Linked DNA regions of Homo sapiens: regions 1, 2 and 4 are each reported to be linked to region 3. The links are microRNA targets in miRTarBase. Many come from high-throughput screens and were not tested one by one. Region 3 holds a microRNA gene; each other region holds the end of a gene's coding sequence.

Evidence for each region. The annotated mature microRNA hsa-miR-4778-5p reads AAUUCUGUAAAGGAAGAAGAGG and lies in region 3 at 2,321-2,342, shown strand. An mRNA with a match to its seed (bases 2 to 7 or 8) in the 3' UTR can be bound and repressed. Matches are read on the target gene's strand: a 7mer-m8 pairs with bases 2 to 8, a 7mer-A1 pairs with bases 2 to 7 and ends in A, and an 8mer does both.
Region 1: miRTarBase lists LYRM7 as a target of hsa-miR-4778-5p. Seed matches in the 3' UTR shown: 8mer at 4,104-4,111 and 7mer-m8 at 2,259-2,265.
Region 2: the mRNA of ZKSCAN2 is a reported target of hsa-miR-4778-5p. Seed matches in the 3' UTR shown: 7mer-A1 at 2,232-2,238.
Region 4: miRTarBase lists ESCO1 as a target of hsa-miR-4778-5p. The part of its 3' UTR that is shown has no 7-base or 8-base seed match.

What each region holds. Positions count from the first base shown.
Region 1 is chr5:131,198,521-131,203,828 of GRCh38, reverse strand. It overlaps LYRM7 (LYR motif containing 7), which reads right to left. Exons shown (of 5, transcript NM_181705.4): 5 at 1-4,298. The coding sequence ends at 4,228. Among named protein-coding and RNA genes, the nearest start is that of LYRM7, 30 kb to the right of the region's middle.
Region 2 is chr16:25,235,855-25,241,162 of GRCh38, forward strand. It overlaps ZKSCAN2 (zinc finger with KRAB and SCAN domains 2), which reads right to left. Exons shown (of 7, transcript NM_001012981.5): 7 at 147-4,884. The coding sequence ends at 3,962. Among named protein-coding and RNA genes, the nearest start is that of ZKSCAN2-DT, 19 kb to the right of the region's middle.
Region 3 is chr2:66,355,331-66,360,638 of GRCh38, reverse strand. It overlaps MIR4778 (microRNA 4778), which reads left to right and starts at 2,311; the gene lies at 2,311-2,390.
Region 4 is chr18:21,525,801-21,531,108 of GRCh38, reverse strand. It overlaps ESCO1 (establishment of sister chromatid cohesion N-acetyltransferase 1), which reads left to right. Exons shown (of 12, transcript NM_052911.3): 12 at 619-1,825. The coding sequence ends at 766. GREB1L (GREB1 like retinoic acid receptor coactivator) reads right to left here. Exons shown (of 33, transcript NM_001142966.3): 33 at 4,997-5,308. Among named protein-coding and RNA genes, the nearest start is that of ESCO1, 72 kb to the left of the region's middle.

The DNA.
Region 1 (5,308 bases), not on the chromosome of region 3:
ATCATGACATAGGTGGCAAATAACTTTCTCTAAACTTTATTTATAGTAGCTTTCACAGAATACAGAAGTTTTATATTTTTATGTGGATATATTTGTCAACTTGTTGGGATTTCGATAAATGTTTTTTCTATTTTTGAGATGGAGTTTCGCTCTTGTTGCCTAGGCTGGAGTGCAATGGTGCGATCTCGGCTCACTGCAACATCTGCCTACCGGGTTCAAGCGATTCTCACGCCTCAGCCTCCCGAGTAGCTGGGATTACAGGCATGCACCACCACGCCTGGCTAATTTTGTATTTTTAGTAGAGACGGGGTTTCTCCATGTTGGTCAGGCTGGTCTCAAACTCCCAACCTCAGGTGATCCACCCACCTAGGCCTCCCAAAGTACTGGAACTACAGGCATGGGCCACTGCACCTGGCCTCAATAGATTTTTGAAAAACTGTCATCTCCAGAATTTTCAATTGTCCTATCTAGGAACATAGTATATCTCTCCTTTTTAAGTGTTATAGCTTATTTTAGAAGTCTATTCCCAGACTTTAAAAAGTCTATTTTACAGTTTTGTTTGCAATTATAAATAGGATCTGTTTTCCATTTCTGATTGGTGACAACTGATATACAGTAAAACTATATTAATTTTGCATGTATCCACTTTGGCTTCAGAAAACTCACCTTCAGAACTGGAATCTTCATTTCTTTGTTGACCTATGGCTTTGTGTTTATGGTTAAATTATGTGCTTTGTCAATAGGTATAGAAATTCCACATATTCTTATTCTTGTGTGCTTTTTTGGTATTGTACTGATGCTGTGAGATGCATCTACAGGAAAATAAGAACTAACTTAAACACAGTTTGACTAAAATCTTAATTTTAATGTTCTGAATTAGATGTTGTACAAACTACCTGCCATATTCCCCCAGCTTCGAATCTACATATGCTTCTCAAATCTGACTCTCCTGCTATATACCATTTCTAACTTCCGCTAAAAGATTGTGTTAGAAAGTCCTGCTGGGCCTCTGAGCCTGGATATTTGCAATTAGAATTCATATACCCCACTTTCACTAGATCTCAATAGTCAAAGCAAAATTATATTTGGGCAACCCCTTGTGTGAATACAGAAAACTTAAAAAAAATAACCAAATAAAAAACATTTAATTAAAGCTGGTTATGGTGGTATGCACCTGTAGTCCTAGCTACTTAGGAGGCTGAGGCAGGATGATTGCTTGAGGTCAGAAATTCTAGGCTGCAGTGTGCTATGACTGTGCCTATGAATAGCTACTGCACTCCAGCCTGGGCAACATGGTGAGATACCCATGTGTAAAAAAGTTTTCTTTTTTTCTTTTTTTGAGACGGAGTCTTGTTCTCTCAGGCTGGAGTGCAGTGGCACAATCTTAGCTCACCACAACCTCTGCTTCCCTGGCTCAAGTAATTCTCCTGCCTCAGCCTCCTGACTAGCTGGGATTACAGGTGTGTATCACCATGTCCTGCTAATTTTGCATTTTTAATAGAGATGGGGTTTCTCCACGTTGGTTGGGCTGGTCTCGAACTTCCGACCTCAGGTAATCCACCTGCCTCAGCCTGCCAAAGTGCTGGGATTACAGGCGTGAGCCACCACACCCAGCCATGAATTACTTTATCTAATTAAACTATTAAATAACCAGTTAAAATCCATTTGAAATATAAATATATGATTATAAGAATAGGCAGGGTGCAGTGGCTTACACCTGTAATCCCAGCACTTTGGGAGGCTGAGGTGGGAGGATCAACTGAGCTCAGGAATTTGAGACCAGCCTGGCCAACATAATGAGACCTTGTCCTTACTAAAAATAAAAAAAATAGCTAGGTGTGGTGGCGCATACCTCTAGTCTCAGCTATTTGGGAGGCTTAGTTGGCATAACTGCTGAGCCCCAGGGGTCAAGGCTTTAGTGGACCATGACCATGCCACTGCACTCCAACCTGGGTGACACAGCAGAACTCAATCTCAAAAAATAAATAAATAAATTAGCATATGCTATATAAGAATAGAGTGCGACATCTTTCAGAATTTTGTGACAGTCAAGCCTGTTGTTGACATGTTTATATACTTCACAGGAACTTTATTTATTTATTTATTTTTGAGACGGAGTTTCACTCTTGTTGCCTAGGCTGGAGTGCAATGGTGCGATCTCGGCTCACTGCAACCTCCGTCTCCTGGGTTCAAGCAATTCTCCTGCCTCAGTCTCCCGAGTAGCTGGGATTACAGACATGTGCCACCACACCTGGCTAATTCTGTATTTTTTTTAGTAGAGACAGGGTTTCCCCATGTTGGTCAGGCTGGTCTAGAACTCCTGACCTCAGGTGATCTGCCTGCCTCGGCCTCCCAAAGTGCTGGGATTACAGGCGTGAGCCACTGCGCCCAGCCAGGAACTTTCAGGAACTTTATTGTGTAGTCTTATGGCATGAAAGTACAATATCATATCTACCTATCTGTATCAATATATCTTTTTTTTTTCCTTTTTCCTTTTTTTTTCTTTTTTTTTTTTGAGACAGAGTCTCACTCTGTCCCCCAGGCTGGAGTGCAGTGGCACAATCTCAGTTCACTGCAACCTCCACCTCCCGGGTTCAAGTGATTTTCCTGCCTCAGCCTCCCGAGTAGCTGGGACTACAGGCGCCCGCCACCATACCTGGCTAATTTTTGTGTTTTTAGTAGAGATGGGGTTTCACCACATTGGCCAGGCTGGTCTCGAACTCCTGACCTTGTGATCTGCCCGCCTCAGCCTCCCAAAGTGCGGGATTACAGGTGTGAGCCACAGCGCCCGGGCCTATATCAATATATCTTAAAATTTCTAAGCCACTATCTTTAATAAACATGTGAATTATTAATCTCATCTGCTACTAATAATGACTATAAGAAAGAAATCTGGAGTTATTTAAATTAATATGAATGAAAAATGGAACAGGGAATTCAGGTTAAAGAAAAAAGCTCAGTGATAAAATATTCAATAACACTAAAATATAGAATATATATTAAATTTAAATAACGTCAGCCAACTTTCCTCAAAATATGTCATATAGACACTAAAATAACTGTAAGTCAGCACATTTATATAGTGATTATATACTGCGATGACATTCAGCATTCTCTTAAAAGGGCAAATTTCAAATTTGAAACGACTTTCATTTTTCTCTAGGTATAATTTCTAGATACATAACAATGCTTGCATTGAGAATCTTGCAAAAATTAAAAACCCTGTATCATCATCAAATGAGAGAATTTATCAGTGAATGGGAGAAAACATACTATTCACTGAGAAAATAGAATGGCAAAGATACACAGATAAAAGAGAAACAAGAAGAATATTAAACAGTATTTTACAGTTCCTAGTGTTAGATGGTAGAATGCCAGGACCTTTTGTGATACTGCCCATCTTGTCAAGGACAGGACATGTGGAAGAAGAGAAGCCATTTAAGTTTCATTAATTAAAACGATGAGAATGTAGCCACCGATTACATTTCACACTAAAGTCTAACTTTGTCTAAATACAGCTAATTCTACTAAGGCCATATTAAATAGTTTGATCAAGGGCCACTATTTCCTCTTTAAACTAGGATTTCTTTATTCCATAGTGACCCTAGGTGACTATAATATTTTATTCATCTATTTTCAGAAAACTGATAAAAAATGTCTTCATAAGAACACAGAGATACTCTCTATCTCTAAAAAGAAACTGTACAATTATATATTAGCTACAGAAATAATCCCAGTGCTTTAGAAAACAAAGGCCACTTTCTGTAGAGAGCTGGCATACACTGTGATTTTTTTGACCAATTTAATATTTTTCAGGACTAAATATCATTTTAATCTAACAATTTAAATGTAATAATTGCATTTCACATGGCAGGAAAACTCACCAATTTGTAAAAGCACCACATTCTCAAATAGCTATGGTAAGATCAAATACTCATCAAGGTCAAAGATTGAATATATCTCCCTAAGCATTTACTTTGCTTTATGAAATTTGATTTTCAATGAAAATGAAATGTTTTCTTATCTAATTTCCTTTAGAAATACTTAATTATGTTCTTTAGTTCTCAGTAATGACCTTTTAACATGAAATTTAAATATGAAGCTATTCTGTAATTCATTCATTTTCAATATGCCAGTTCAGGGAAAATGTCTGCATTTCCAGGACTTTTGCCAGAGTTGTAGATTTTAAAGTTAAAAAGTACAAAGACTTGTTGTATTCTAGAAAACTCATTGCTTCTGAGTTGGTGCATCACAATATGGCACATTTTCTACAAGAAGGTCTTTCCTAGGGACCAGTTCTGAAAGAAAAAAAAAAAAGAGAATAATTAACATCACTAAAATTAGAATTAAATGCAAGGACACTCATTTCCCCCTAAAATTTAAAATAGTAAAATATCCAGTTTTAAGATAAATCTTCCAGGGATATTTTATTTCAGTTGATATCTAAGGTGGCATCCTTGACTCTAATTAGAATTAATAGCATTCTCATTTCAGATTATATAAAAACATATATGATCCACTTAACCCTTTATCATTAAATATAGCAAATCAAATAACTGAAGAGAATTCAGCTAAAACTTCTATTATTGGTCATTTAATTACCAATTACTGATAATGAAAACAACTGGAAATTTTGCTTATACTATCTACTATATGAAAAGCAAGACTGGTCTCCTAATTTAAAGATTCTAAATTTTAAATAACAATTGTTCTTAAAAGAGGGTGTTTTGTGTGGTCATATCAACTGGAGAATGCTACTGGAATTTAGTGGGCAGGAGCCAGGGATGCTAAACCTTCTGTAATGGGTGGAACAGTCTGGCATAGTGAAGAACTGTCCTGTCAAAAATGCCAATAGTGCCCACATTGAGAAATATCATAAAACAACAACAAAAACCTGTTGAGTCCTAGGTAAGACATCTTGCTGGAGTTAAGATAAAGCTCTTAAGATACAAATTTTTGGCCGGGTGTGGTGACTCACGGCTGTAATCCTAGAACTTTGGGAGGCTAAGGAGGGATGATCATTTGAGGTCTAGAGTTGGAAACTAGCCTGACTAACATGGTGAAACCCCATCTCTACTGAAAAAAAAAAAAAAAATCAGCTGGGTGTGGTGGTGCATGCCTGTAATCCCAGCTACTCAGGAGAATGAGGCACAAGAATCGCTTGAACATGGGAGGCGGAGGTTGCAGTGAGTGAGCCGAGATGGTGCCACTGCACTCCAGCCTGGGGGACACAGTGGCAGTCCACCTCAAAAAAAAAAAATTCCAAATTTTTGAGGAGATACATTGATTTCTTCTTCTTTTCTCCAGA
Region 2 (5,308 bases), not on the chromosome of region 3:
GTGGACTCACAAAAGACCCCTGCTACTTGTGGGGGACAACACTGAACTAGAATGAGACTGGAATTCTTTTCATTGGCTGGTAAGATCAGCTTTTATCAACTTCTTGGTACATTATATTTTCTCTTAATAGAATGACGCCCTTCAAATTATGGCAGAAACCAGTGGGAGCCATTTATTTTAGACATTTATTCCACAAACAAGTTTTCAAGAAGACATCTAAGTGAACACTGATACAAAACAATGAATGGACATCCATTTGCACCAGGTCTTGGAATGCATTCAGAGGCAGAGGCTTCCAGTTTCACAAGTTACTCAGACATTCCTTTAGCCAGGGCTGCCCCAGCTCCCTCACAGCTGTCTTGTCTGTCACTGGGCGCCAGACCTCCTGACAGAGGCTTCCTTCACTTCAGCCTACCTGCCACTGGTTATCGAGGTGCTTGGGGGGTGCCTGCTGTGGACCACGAGGGACTTGCCCTTTCTCCTTCCCCAACAAGCTCCTGGGCTGAGTTTGCTGTCACAGCATCCCCTCCCTTTCCTGAAGCATGCGATGGATTTGGTATGGCCAGATGTGGCAGGCACAGGACAGCTGGGCCGGCAGCCTGGTCTTCTAACCTCTTCCGCATCTATATCACGCTCCACAGCCTCATGAAACATTAGAGCCAGAGCAACTTAGCAGTTAAGTTCAACTTCTCTTCAGATGAGGAGCCGAGGCCCAGAGAGGCTATGATGTGTCAAACAACACTCATTTAGTGACAAGATTAAAACTTGCTTCTTTCAGCTTCCAGTCTCATGCTCATTCCACCAAGGCCAGGCTGCCCTGAGCCATTTACGTGTGAGGTTTCCCTTTTTAAAAAACTGTTTCTTTCCAGATGAATGAATTAGGTTGAATGCATAATAACATCACTGGTAAGAACTGGAGGTATTTGTGGCAGTAACAAAGCAAGCCTAGGTGGGACATACGACCCCAGTTTCCAAAATGCCTTCGATAAGATGATAGTGAAAAGTTGTCAGTCTATGCTGCTTTTCAAAAACAGGATTTGACACAATTTACAAGGAAATAAGATGAAATTAAATAAATATAGGTTGGGGTAGTTGGTTGAGGTGGGCTGTAAGTTTTGTTGAACTTTCCAGCAGCCAGAACAAAGAGAGAAAAAGCAGCTTAAGTTACAAAAATCACAGTGTTTGTAATACATACATACAGATCTACACACACATGTAGACGTGTGTGTGTACACATACTGCGCTTAGGATCAGAGCTTTCCTTGGCACTGAGATCTAGATAAAAAAACCTTTTTCTATGAATCTTCATAAAGGCAATGTTATGTGATCTAAAAGACACATTGGTCAGAACATGATTATTCATTTTGACTTACATGTACCAGGTGAAAACAAATAAAATGCAGGGAGACAGGTAGTGTTGGTCTAAAATGGGGGGGAGACCTTCCATTTCTTCAGAACAAAGTTCATCAAATTAATGTAACACATGTCTAGACAGCCCATTTACAATTAGGAGTAGAGATAGGGGAACCCAAATTCCACCTCAGCTTGCTCCCAGGCATATGAGAGTTAAACAGAATCAGTTTGTCCCACTAGAGAGGGAATGGGTCTTGCTTGACCCTTTCCTGCCACTGGGGAAGGTTGAGAGATGAAGGTACAGAATATGATTCTGGGCAACTTAGCGCAACTCTTCTGCAGGGGAAGGTGATGTTCTCATGACTGAGCTCCTGGCCTTCTGTAACTGCCATGGTGTAAGTGGCCCCAACTTTTGCTGTGATGCTTCCTCTATCAAACTGTGAGTTCCTTGAGCCCAGGCACCATGCCCCTTCCTTCCTTTTTCTATCATTCACTGTGGCTAGAACATGGCCTTACATGTAACAGTGCTTCATATTTATGAATAAGTCATCTACTTTCCTGAATCATGCTTCCACATAATATCAATCCTGTGTACATATTATTAAGTGGTGATTTCTATTAATTTACATCTTCTCTAGAGCTGGAATTCCAGAACATCTACACAATATAAACACAAGCCCACTGGCACCACAAACATCTTACTGTGCTACGCACACTACCAACATGGAACTGTACTTAGCATTAGAAATCTATAACTTGGACAACACAGAAAAATCAACCTATTGAGATGTGAACAGTCATAATATTTCCAACAAATGTAAATCAGAAACATTTATCAATGTCTACCTGAGTCACCTGCCTTCCAACAGGCCACACCCTATTCTGGCACCATAAATTAGATTTCTTTCTACAGTGCCTACCCTCCTAGGTACTTTGCTGAACAAGTTTCAAAAGATTGAAACATACCAAAAGGAAAAATATCATTTCCAGATGGCTTCAAATAAGAGCATTTGACAAAGAAAGGGAGAGAGAAGAGCAAAATAATCACCCACAAACAGCCCTAACTCCGGTTCCCTTCCCATTAAACTTGTGACTTCTCCCTTGCCAAAGCAAAGCCACCCTGGGTCACCTACATACTAAGGGAATAAACGCCACTGACTCCATCCTGAAGCAACTGGCCATGGAAAATCAAATCTCTGGGTTTCATCTGTAACTTCAAAAGTCAATTAACCATCCCCCATCAGAACTTTTCCTTCAGTGTTTACTGGGTTACTGCCGGGGGTTCTCAAAGAGATTTTTCAGACAAAACAAGTAAATGAGGAAAACAAAAACGGTGTTCTGGATTTCTGGATTGAAGTTTTTATAAATGTTCCCACTTTTCACCCAGTGAGCTCTAGAGTTGTGTTAAGTTACTTGGCACACTACAGTTAGGTTTCTGATGCGGTGAACAGGGACTAGAAGCCTCAGGAAAAGAGACTGGGAGATTTAACAGCCAGACCTGAGAGCGCTGGTCTAAGCTGAGGTGGCTATCTGATCGACAGCAGGCCAAAGGAGTCCAACTGGTCTTAGAAATGCTTCAGGTGTCTATTACCTCTTCCCTATCCCCTTAAAGTTTTAGAAACACTATTATAATATTATACTGCAGTGCAGGGGTGGGAGGTACGAAATATGCCAACATGCCAGTCATGTTCTAGATAAGAGCCAGAGAAGTTAGAGGATAGAACTAGAACGCATCTGAAATCCTACTTTGCTTTAGTGAGACACACCACGAGCAGGCCTCCTATTCTATCTGAGGAGGGCATGGTAGTTCGGAAGAGGCCGGCAGGAGCACCCAGAGCAACTGAGAGGCAAGTGCAGGGCTATGAGAAACAGTAGGAGGACCTGGGATTACTTATAGGCTGGAGAAGCAGCAGCCAGGGGATTTAAGTCTTCGGGTACAGAAAAGGATGAGGGGTGATCAATTGCTTCTCACCTCCATGGAGGGCAAGGCATTAGTAACAGGATTTCAGTGACAATACAGGGATTCTGCCCTAGCTATTTGGATCAACTTCTTGACAAAAAAAAAAAAAAAGGTACACTGTAACAGACTTCTGAGGAAAGCTATAAAATCTTCACTCTTCTTTTGTGGATCTCTTCAAAACCAAGATGGATTTGATGTAGTTCCGATCAGACTCCTCAAAGTTCTATCTAAATGTGAAAATCTGTTATCAAGTTTCATCCAGGATCTCACGGAGTAGGTAATAACAACAAAAAAACTTTTGGCATTTTTTATATCCTTGAAGACAACTCTCACCCATATGGAAGATCTTGAATGTTGCCGAACTTAGCAATCCAGTTGCAGTGGCCTCAATGTACTGAAGGGTATTTCATTCTGAACTCGGACAATGTATCTTCGCCACATTCTTAAAGGAGAAGCTGAGACACACAGAAGAGGAGGAACAGACTGATGAAGTTAGAGGCAGAGGTGAGAACAGGATGAAAGTGTTTAGTTTATTTATATTCTCAAGTTTATCTTGGAAATTACACTTCATAGCTAAGAAAAGATTGCTTCCAAGAATGAGATTAGGGTAAAATGGCTAAGGGGGCATTTAGGAAGAGAAGATCATCATCAAAAAGTTTTCCTAAATTCATCAGTCTTTCCCTTATGTGGGTTCTCAGGGCAATACAGAGATGGAGGGTGTGGCAGAGGCTTTTCTCTCACATGAACTTCCCGATGTTTGGTAAGAACAGAACTCTTACTGAAACGTTTGCCACACTGGGCACATCCATAGGGCTTCTCTCCAGTGTGTATTCTCCGATGTTCTCGAAATCTCGTACAGTTATTGAAACTTTTTTCACAGTCCACACATTTGTAGGGATTCTCCCCAGTGTGAACTCTCCGGTGGGCGCTGAAATGAGAACTGTTGGTGAAACTTTTCCCACACTCTCCACACTGATAGGGCTTCTCACCGGTGTGCGTTCTCTGATGTATAATAAGACTAGAGCTCTGACTAAAGCATTTTCCACACTCTCCGCATCTGTAGGGTTTCTCTCCTGTGTGGATTCTCTGGTGGGCACCAAAATTTGAGGAGTCATTAAAGCTTTTTCCACAGTCAAGACATTTAAAAGGTTTTTCGCCTGTGTGGATTCTTTGGTGTCTGATCAGGCTCCTGCTTCTACCAAAGCACTTCCCACAGACACCACACTTGTAAGGATTCTCCTTGTGGTGGGTCATCCGGCACATCAGACGAGTGCTCCTTCCAAAGCTTTCTCCATATTTGAGAAGTCTGTAGGGTCTCTTCCCCACAAAAGGCCTCTGATGCACAACGGCTTTCCCTAAATCTCTAGGCTGAGACATCGGCTTTCCCTGTCTAATTCCTTGAAGATTTTCCCATTGTCTTCCTGAGATGCATTCCCTTTTGCGATATTTGCTGGGGTCGGTACTCTGGGAAACAACTCTTTTAGACTTTTCTATTAATGCCCTATGCTGTTCCATGTCCTTATATACTATCTGTGTTGGATCCTCCTTGATGCTACTTCCGATTTCAAAATCTGAAAAAATGAAAGACAATACAAATTTTATACAAGTCTGATATTAACCATAAACAACCTGGCTTGCAAGGCTTGATCCGCTTGCTCTCCATACACTTCTCTAACCTCAGATCCTGTGACTCTTCCCTGATTCATTCTGCTATATTTCTTTCCATTCATAAACAGGCCAATAACAGCCAGTACAGAGTAGGCCTTAAGAAATGTTTCCTGCATTATAATCCAAGCCATCATTCCCCATCCATATCCCGATTAACAAGGGTGCAACCTGGCTTATCTCCCTGAGGTTCCACTCTAATTCATCCTATTTTCATAATTTCACCTCTATACTAAAGCACACTACACCACACTGATCTCTAGATTAGATTCTGACTAAGTCCAAGTTCCTCGAGGGACTTCAGGAACTAAATTCCTCTACATATCTAAT
Region 3 (5,308 bases):
ATGTTATATACATACATATATGTGTGTGTATATATACATATACATATACACACACACACACATACACACACACACACACACACACACACATATACCATGGAATACTGCTCAGCCAAAGAAAGGAATGAAATAATGGGATTTGCAGCAACCTGGATGGAATTGGAGGCTATTATTCTAAGTGAAGTAACTCAGGAATAGATAACCAAACATACATGTTCTCACTCATATGTGGGAACTAAGCTATGAGAATGCAAAGGCATAAGAATGATATATTGGAGTTTGGAGACTCAAAGGAAAGAGTGGGGGAGAGGGAGGGATAAAAGACTACACATTGGGTACAGTATACAATGCTTGAGTGATGGGTGCAACAAAATCTCAGAAATCCCCACTAATGAGCATATTCATGTAACAAAATACCATCTGTTCCCCAAAACTTATTGAAATAAAAAATAAAAAATTAATGATAATAACAATAAAAAGAAGTTTATTTGTCTTATGTTTCTGGAGGCCAGGAAGTCCAAGATCAAGGGGTTGCATCTAGTGGGGGTCTTCTTGCTGAGTCATAACCTGGCAGAAGACATCACATGAAGAGAGAATGGATGAGAGCCAGCAAGCAAGAGAGGGCCAAACTTGCTTTTATAACAAACCCATTCCTGACATCATGAACTTACCCCTGCCATAATGACATTAATCCATTCCAGGGGGCAAAGCTCTCATGACCTAATCACCTCTCAAAAGTGCCACCTCTCGATGCTGTTGCATTGGGGATTAAGTTTCCAACACATGAACTCTGGGGAGATGCATTCAAACCTTAGCAGTTTAATACAATCCAGTCAGCTTTTTGAAGGGCTTCATTGGTCTTCCCGGGAAATAGTTGCTTTTATTTTTGGTTTTCTACCATTTTCTTTTCCCCTCAGTTGCTTTTAGTAGAAAAGGGAGCTTTGGTAAAATTTTCTGATACAGTGTCAAACATATCAGTAACGGCTCACTAATGGCATTGCATTCAAACCTCAGAAACAGTTTTTGTCTTGTGTGTGACCTATATGCCACTGCACTGCTGAGCATCCAATTCTCCATGAATATCAATGATTTCCTCTGGTGGTGACCCTGATGAACTTCCCAGGCAAGTTTCCAAACTTTCATGGCTCATAGGTGGCTCCTGTGTCCTCACAGGTGGTGGCCTTGTGTCCCTGGAGTCTTCGAAGCAAACTGCTTCTTTGTTTCTTTGGATATAAAAGCTTATCAAATGGCTTTTTCAATATCATCCTCTTTTCAAAAGTGGATGAAGGGTTTATAGTCTTCAAAATATGATAACACTCAGAAGTGCATTTTTCTCAGTATTGTTTTGAAAGCATAAGCACTTATAAACAATGATTTTTAACCTTGGATGGGGGGACCAATAAGTTATTGTTAGGTGTCTATTAATCTACTTGTTGTGCAAGCATTCTCTAGAGTCTGAGTAAATAATATTTTAAAAGCTTTACTGAGATTATTGGCCATTTTTGTCAGTATGTTTTCTTAAGTCATACTAAAAGTTCAACTCATATCACTAAGGGGGTATGAAATTATTTTTTTCTTGGGGCGGGGAAGTATGAGATATAAAATTCTCAACTTCCAAGTGATATGATTTGGCTCTGTGTCCCCACCCAAATCTCATGTTGAATTGTAACCCCCAGTGTTGGGGGAGGGACCCGGTAAGAGGTGATTGGATTATGGGGGTAGATTTTTCCCATGCTGTTCTTGTGATAGTGAGTTATCATGAGATCTGGTTGTTTAAGAGTGTGTAGCACTTCCCTCTTTGCTCTCTCTCTCCTGCTGCCATGTAAAGATGTGCTTGCTTCCCATTTGCCCTGCCTCCATGATTGTAAGTTTCCTGAGGCCTCCCCTGCCATGTCTTCTATACAACCTGTGGAGCTGTGAGTCAATTAAATCCCTCTTTATAAACTACCCATACTCAGGTAGTTCTTTATAGCAGTGTGAGAACAGACTAATACACCAAGTAATAAAACCTCAACTTAAAGTAGCTGAAGTCAAAAGGAGAAGTTGTTGGCTCAGATTGTTCAGAGGTATGTTGAGCTCCATTTGCCTTTGTTCAGCTTCAGGCAAGCTTTTTCCATAAGGTGGTGAGAGCATCCTGGTGCTTGCCACATGAATACATGATCCTGAAGCTTTGTGAACTCAAGAGAGACTTTATCCCAACAATCAAACTCCAAAGCAGTGTTTGGATTGGTTATCCCTACTTCATGTATTTCTCTCTGGACTAATCACAGGCATTAAGACATATAAGGTAAACTGACTGGTCAGTGTAAATCACATGTCCAATTCTGTAAAGGAAGAAGAGGTAAGAAGAAGTGAAGCCCTCTTCTTCCTTTGCAGAGTTGAATATGTGGCTTATAGTCCTTCTAGAGTCAACATGGAGAGAGAGAGGAGACACTTTCCAAACAAAAAAAGGATGTGATGAATAGACAAGCAATTCTTGTCCACTGAAAAAAGGGTTCTTATATTTGCTTCATATTTATAAGTCTTAGGGATATTATTCTAGAATTACATTATTATTTTCTTGATGTTTGCACTACAGTTCTCCTCTAGGTATTAGAGGTCAGCTAAGCACAAATGAGATGAATGGGAATACTCTGGGAGGCACTGTTTCTGCAGCCAATCCCAAAGAGGTTTGTATGCCTGTGTGTGTTTGGGTGCGAGAAGAAGAAGAATGAAGTGTCAGAAGGAGAGCTGTCAAAATGAAATATCAAAATTCCCTTAAAATCCAAATCTCAATTCTGTTCTGTAAGTTTAAAACAAAACAAAATGAACTTGCACACATACACACACCACTAGGACCACCACTACAATCACCACTACCAAACAGATGCAAGCTATAAGGTTTTAATTCCAAAAAGACCCAGAATATTTCTATTCCTTATTTGTCTTTAATTATTGTGTTCTTTTTGTATGGGCACCCTAGATTGGGAGATTCAGCCCTAGGATTAGAGCTCGGAGTAGCATGGATCTCATTCCCAGGTCTCCATTTCTTGGCTAGCTTCTTTTCCCTGGACAATCCATTCCTTCACAGGAGTCAGTAATTCTGCAACTAATCTAATGCCCATTTACTTTCCTTATCTGACTCTGTCTGTCAGTCTTTTCACTTTCATCTCTTCTGGCATTACTCCTCATTTCCTTAATTTTCCCTACATTTTCCCATTATGTGAAATAAAAACACTTCAAATCCTTATTTCACTTTTCTCAGCTATAGGTATTACAGACAACTGGCATACCATGAAGATAAGCTGACTCTTACAAGAGTAATACAATGATGATGAAAATGAACATTGAGTCCTTATTATTTCCTAGACACTCTATCTATTATTATCTATTTAATCCTCACGCCAACCTAATGGGATGGAGTAGTAGATCCATGTTAGTTTTATTTGAGAGGTTTCAGCCTTTGAATGGCTGAGTTCAGCCTTTGAACCCATTTCTTACATTTGAGAAATTTCTAATAATATGAATTTTGCTTGAATTTCCCAGTATGGAAGTCAAAAAAATTCTTGTCCCAGGCTACCCTGCAGCTAAGGTATGAACACATCACCTATACTCAGCCAAACAGAGGTACCTGCCTCAGACTTTAAATTTGCATTGAGAGATGCAAAAATCAGGAAAGCAGAGAATTTATTTCTCCTTTAATGGTTGCAGAGGTGGCTTCAACATCAGCTTCCAGGGTTTACAGAGGCTGTGGTGGTGACATTAAATGTTTAAGTTCAGTAGCAATAACAGATAAGCCTCAGTATTCAGTGTCAGCAACAGTCAGGTGGAGTGATAGAGTCTCCACCTCACTCACATTGTGGCATCATTTTGGCTGTGGCTCAGGCTGTTACCTGCACCCCTTCTTTATGCCATTTCTGAGTCTGGTAGTTCAGCCTTCCCAATGTTTTCATAAACATAAAATACAGTGTTGTGGAGTTGAGCCACAAAGAAGCCTTTTCTACGTGCTTTCTCATACCCTTGCAATAAATTCCCTACTGTCTAATCAGCCATAGTTAGTTTATATCACTTGAAACAAAGAAATTTGATGGGAACAGAGATCATATTTTAAATTTCCTTCTATAGATTTGTAAACTCAGGCTTTTTTTTATTATTGTTATTTTTGGACAGAGTTTGGCTCTTGTCACCCAGGCTGGAGTGCAGTGGTGTGATCTCGGCTCACTGCAACCTCCGCCTCCTGGGTTCAAGCAATTCTCCTGCCTCAGCCTCCTGAGTAGCTGGGGTTACAGGCATGCACCACCATACCAGGCTAATTTTTTGTATTTTTAGTAGAGATGGGGTTTTGCCATGTTGGGCAGGCTGGTCTTGAACTCCTGACCTCAGGTGATCCACTCACCTTGGCCTCCCAAAGTGCTGGGATTACAGGCATGAGCCACCGTGCCCAGCCAATCCAGGCTTAAAGAAACAAATCTATTGCACAAGGTCAAACACAGAGTCTGGGGTCTGGCTGTTTGGAGAGCCAAGATTTGTCTCCCACCCTCATGCAAGCAGGGAAGAAAGTACTACCAATAAATGAGATTGGTCTGAAAGTAACTTAGAAAAATTAGGCATCCTTGATTAATGTCTCAGTTCTGGCTCTAACTAGCTTGATGTGGCTTGTCTCTGTGTCCCCACCCAAATCTCATATTGTAGTTCCATAATTTCCACGTGTTGTGGGAGGGACCCAGTGGAAGATGATTGAATCATGGGGGCAGGTCTTTCCCATGTTGTTCTCGTGATAGTGAATAGGTCTCACGAGATCTGATGATTTTAAAAACCAGAATTTCTCTGCATAAGCTCTCTCTTTGCCTGCTGCCATCCACGTAAGATGTGACTTGCACCTCCTTGCCTTCTGCCACGATTGTGAGGCCTCCCCAGCCGTGGGGGCTGTAAGTCCAATAAACCTCTTTCTTTTGTGAATTGGTTATGTCTTTATCAGCAATGTGAAAACAGACTAATACACTGGCCCTATGCTTTGCATAAGTCATAGTTTATTGGGATAATCTTTCTTTGTCTAGAAAGTAAAAAGTTTGGTCAGCATTGGTGCTTTCTAACTCTTAAGGATGGGGGCATATAGCCATACAAAAACATTTGAAAGGTACTGAACTTCTGTTTAGCAAAATTCACATTCAAATGTGTTATGTCCAACTTCACCCAAGCCCATCCTGGGATGTCAATGAACCCTAGGATGAGAACCTTGAATTAGATGACCTCTTGTTTTGGAGTTTTCCAAGTAAAACTTTGTGTGATTTCATTGTCTGGGTGAATTTGCTATAATTAGAGACCACAA
Region 4 (5,308 bases), not on the chromosome of region 3:
TTTCAGTTTTAGGTTGTTCATTACAAGTGTATAGAAACAGTTTACTTTTGAATATCAATCTTGAATATGCAGCCTTGCCAGACTCGTTTATTAGATTTTTTGTTTGTTTTTGTGAATTTTTTAGGATTTTCTATAAACAAGGCCTTTTCATCTGCAAAAGAGATAGTTTTATTTCTTTCTTTCCAATCTGGATGATTTTTATTTCTTTTCCTCATGACGAGAACCTCCAATACAATATTGAATAGAAGAGGTGAGAGTAGTCTTCTCTTATTCCTGATCTTTGAGGAACAGTTTTCAGTCATTCACCATTAACTCTGATATTCCTTGATGTCTTTGATCAGGTTGAGGAAATATTTCTACTCTTAGTTGAATATTTTTATCATGAAAAGATGTTGGGTAAATGTTTTTACATTGTTGCTTTTATTAAAATTTAACCTCAGGTTATTGATATTATAGATGAATAATTATTTTCAAAAATTTTGAGCACATACAGCAGTATCTAAAAAGCTTTTTTAGTCAAATTGTATTTGACAGGTTATTCCAGTTTTAATGATTAGAATTTTTTTTTTTTTAACATTTCACACTTAACCCTTCCCCCCCCCCATTTTTTTTTAATAGGAGTAACTTTATATATGGCTCATATTTGAGCAAAGAAGAAATTGCTTTCTCAGATCCCACTCCTGATGGAAAGCTGTTTGCAACACAGTACTGTGGCACTGGTCAATTTCTGGTATATAATTTTATTAATGGACAGAATAGCACGTAAAACAAATTCTTGCCTACACCACTAGAAGACATCTATTGAAGAGAATGGATTGGTTGCTGACTTTAACCAGGAACTAGGGCCATTTTTATTACAATGAACTCAGGACTGGCAACAACCATATGGTTGTTCCATTTTCATAAAATTGGAAACAATGCAGTAATAGCTTATTGTTTTGTTTTTTAAAGAAGATATTTTATTATCTTTTACAGAAATTTATGATTGATGTATTTTATCTATAGTTATTTAGACATGTTTACATGCAGCAGATAATTGTTCATAGTGGACTGAAAACTAATGCAAGGACTATGGTCTCAGTGATAAGTATATTTTGAAGTTCTTAATATGGAAATATACCAGTGTAGCTTGGTACTGTATTTTTTTATATTGATCTGCTGATACCAGTGATAGGCTTAAAGATTGTATTTTCACAGAGTGGAAACCAATTTTTTTAGTTATTGTTCAAGGAGGGTGCAATATTAAGTGTTTTGGAATTTGAAGCTAATTTTTAAAAGGCCTGAACTATACTTTGAAGAAACCCCTATAGAAAAGGAAAGCTCCAGCTAAATAGGAAGAATTAGAATATTGAGCTTTTTTTTCCTGATTTTTCTCTTTCCTATCTTTGATGGAAGGAGGAAGTAGAAAGTGGTAAAGAATTGAGGCTTTCCTTCTTGGAGAGCTGTAAATGACAAGCATTAGGAAAGGTACCCTCCTAGATTCATTATTCTTTCATTCTGGTTTCACTTTTAAAATAAATGGCAACTTGGCACACCTAGGCTGTTAACAAATCTCAAAGAGGTTTATAAAAACGTATAGAATACTTGGAAGCAAAGTATGGATGACTCGGTATCTGCTTTGTTATTCCTCAGAAATACTGCACTGAGTATATGCCCTCATTACTGGACTTCATTTTGATACTTGTCTATCCTTCATAGTGCCCTCTACTTTTAAAGGGTTTATATGTTGAAAAACTGCTGTGGCCTTTTATGACCTGTATATAATGTAGAATAAAAATAATAAAATACTTGATAGCTTTTTCTAAGTGACCAATGTACTAACTGAGAATAATGGTGTGTTGTCATTTGTGCTTTTTCAGGGTGTTTTTTTGGTTTGATATCTTGAAATATGATTAAAACATTGGCTTCCTAAAGGCAGTTTCCACCAGTTTGCCAAAGGATCATTGTGTCAGCAGCAAATCAGCTGAACTTTATTTCCAAAGGCAAAATCCTTTCTGATTATTTTAGTAACATAGTACTTTTATGATGTTGCAAATAAATGAAGGGCCCACAGCCCAAGAATGAATTACCACTGTGGTTCAACTTAGGTTATTTTTGTGAGCTGAAATGATCATATCTCAGTTGAAAACTGGCTAAAATTTAGGGCCTTAAATTAACAGGTATACATTTTATTTCCCTATAAATTTTTGCTTTTACAATTTCTAGGCCAGGCGCGGTGGCTCACGCCTATAATCCCAGGACTTTGGAAGGCTGAGGCGGGCGGATCACGAGGTCAGGAGTTCGAGACCAGCCTGACCAATATGGTGAAATCCCGTCTCTACTAAAAATACAAAAATTAGCTGGTTTTGGTGGCATGCACCTGTAATCCCAGCTGCTCAGGAGGCTAAGGCAGGACAATAGCTGGAACCTGGGAGGTGGAGATTGCAGTGAGCAGAGATTGCACCATTGTACTCCAGCCTGAGCAAAAAGAGCAAAAAACTCCACCTCAAAAAAAAATTTTTTTTTCTAGAGTGGTATAAGACTCTACATTTTGTATGGGTAGAATGATAGGGCACGGTAAATATTTCCCCGTGATTCATCAAGCTGGTCTAGCTTTTTTTTTTTTTTTTTTTTTTTTTTGAGACAGAGGCTCACTCTGTCACCCAGGCTGGAGTGCAATGGCATGACCTCAGCTCACTGCAACCTCCACCTCCTAGGCTCAAGCGATTCTCCTGCCTCAGCCTCCAGAGTAGCTGGGATTACAGGCACCTGCCACCACGGCCGGCTAATTTGTTTTTGTATTTTTTAGTAGAAACAGGGTTTCACCACATTGGCCAGGCTGGTCTTGAACTCCTGACCTCACGTGGTCCACCTGCCTCGGCCTCGCAAAGTGCTGAGATTATAGGTGTGAGCCACTGCACCTGGCCCTAGCTTTTGATACTGTCATTTCCCTTTGGGCTTGAGACTGTTCTAGTCAATCCTGGTCTCATTGTTTGCCTGACAGGTACCATGATTTAAAAAAAAAAAAAAAAAACAGAATGAAATTTTGGGATATAGTGTAGACTCTCTAGTAACTGTTAATCCCATAATACAGGTCCAATTTCCATAAACAATAGTATACTACTTTGACTACTTTTGACTTGGTTTCAAGGTGACCTGGAGGTGGAAGAGGGTATATTGGGTGGTTGGTTTATATGTTATTATTACTGAGAAACCAGTTTATTTTCATGTTTATACTGAAGATATAGCCTCCCAAATTTTACAATTTAGGTATTTCTCTAAGAATAGTATTATTAGTTAATACCTAACATTTGAGTGTTTGCTATGTGTCAGACCCTGTGTGTTTAGTCCTGCATTATTTTATGTAATCATTACGACAGTCCTATGAGGTAGGGTTTATAATTGAGGAATCTGGAACTTAGATGATAATTAAGAGCCGTTTGTGTGAAAAGTGTTGAAACACTGAACTAAAGCTGTGATGTGGAGATGAAGACGAGACAGATACACATTGAAAAGATAAAATTGAAGAATTGACACAGTTGAATTGATAGGAATTTATAAACAACCAGAAAAAGATCATGGCAAAGAGGTTAAGGTAAGTGGGAATTTTGGTTTGGGTAATTGAATTAGATTGACAGATGGGAATACAGGGGAATTAGGTTGGGAGGATTGGATGGGGATGTCCTCAGTTTTGGTCAAGATTTTAAGGTGGTTGTAGAAAGAGTCTCTTAAGTGGAGAAACCTTTTAGTATACAATTGGATATGTGAATCTAGAGTTTCAGAAAGGTTCTAACTGAGAAACAAATTTATGAGTTCACTTATTTATTTGAAGGTTCACAAGGTCACCCTGGGGTTTGTAAAATGAGAAGGTAGAAGAGAGTTGTGAGGTACACCATCATTTAAGAGTCTCAAAGAAGACTGCCTAAGAAGGCATGAGCAGCAAGGTAGGAGAGCCAGAAGAGAGTGGTAGAAACCAAGGGAAAAATGTCAAGAATCAAAGAATGATCAACCCTGTCATACCACAGTTGAAGACTGAAGAGAGCCCAAGTGATGTTAGGAAAAGAGCAGTCTCAGTGGAGTGGTGGAGGCAGCAGGGACACGGTGAGTGTACACTAATGGCCACAGACTGTAGAAGAGGGTGAGTCTGTAATTGCTGACTATATAAAGGTGCTTATAGATTTTTTGTTAGCAGCCCTCATGTAGTTGTTGGTTGTTTATAAAAATATCTAGCATAGAGACATGGTAAGAGCCACAAATATAGTCAGGAACTACAAGATTTTATGGGCGATGCTTTTATCTGCATGGACACACAGATAAAAAGCAGTATTTTACTACTTCATAATATGCAAGAGTGAACTTGGTTTATCTACTGAAAGCCTGACTGTTGTAAGGACAGTCAGTGAGTACAACAAACCTGCAGTGTTATTTTAATTGTTCTTGTTTACTTTGCACGGCTGCCCAGCTATAGAGTCTTATCCTTCTGGATGGGAACACAGCTGTATTCCTGCCCATCCACATTGCAGCTAGGGTTGAGATTGCTGAGTGAGTTGATTTCTAGGGTAGTGACTCTAGACATACATTTTCTTTCTCATGGCTCCTGAGTCTTTAGGCAGAAAAAGGGATGAGTTCTGTCTTTTAGCAACCCCCCACCCCCACCCTTCTGGTAAAAATAAAATACACTGGACTAGTAAAAATAAAATATGTGGAATGAAGTGGTCAGAAAAGAACTTACTGGTGTTGCCTTTTTTTTTTTTTTTTAACTTAATACCATCATCTATTGTCATAGTCACTGAAGTAGATGCTTTAACTCAACAACACTTGATAGTTGAGAGCACAGTGAATTTATTATGTGAATGACTTTTTCTTTGGCCTTAGCGGCAATTCCTAAAGTCATCTTTAGCAGTATTTTTACTGTTGTTGTTTTGTTTTCAGTGAAGCCAAGGTTTCAGTGTTAGAGTAGTATTCTCCTAGACTCAGAGGAAGCTTTAAGGGCCAATTTCCAGTTTCTGTGTCTAAAGAGAAGCTTGATAAATGTTCGTTCTCTGGATGTTGTTTCAGGCCTAAGTAGTTTAGTGTGATGTTGCAGCAGTCAGTTTCACAGTTAATTAATAGTCTTTTCAAGGCAGCTGCTTTGGAATGTATAGTGGAACACCAGTAGTCTTTACTTTCCTCTGAAAGTCTGTCATTACACTTACAAATATTTATTGCCCTTCCTGAGGGTCCTTTGGCCTAGAAGATTGTTTTCATGGAATCTATGTCAAATTCTTTTAATTTACTACACTTTATTAATAGATTGAAAGCCATTTTTCTGGGACAACAAAGTTGTTAT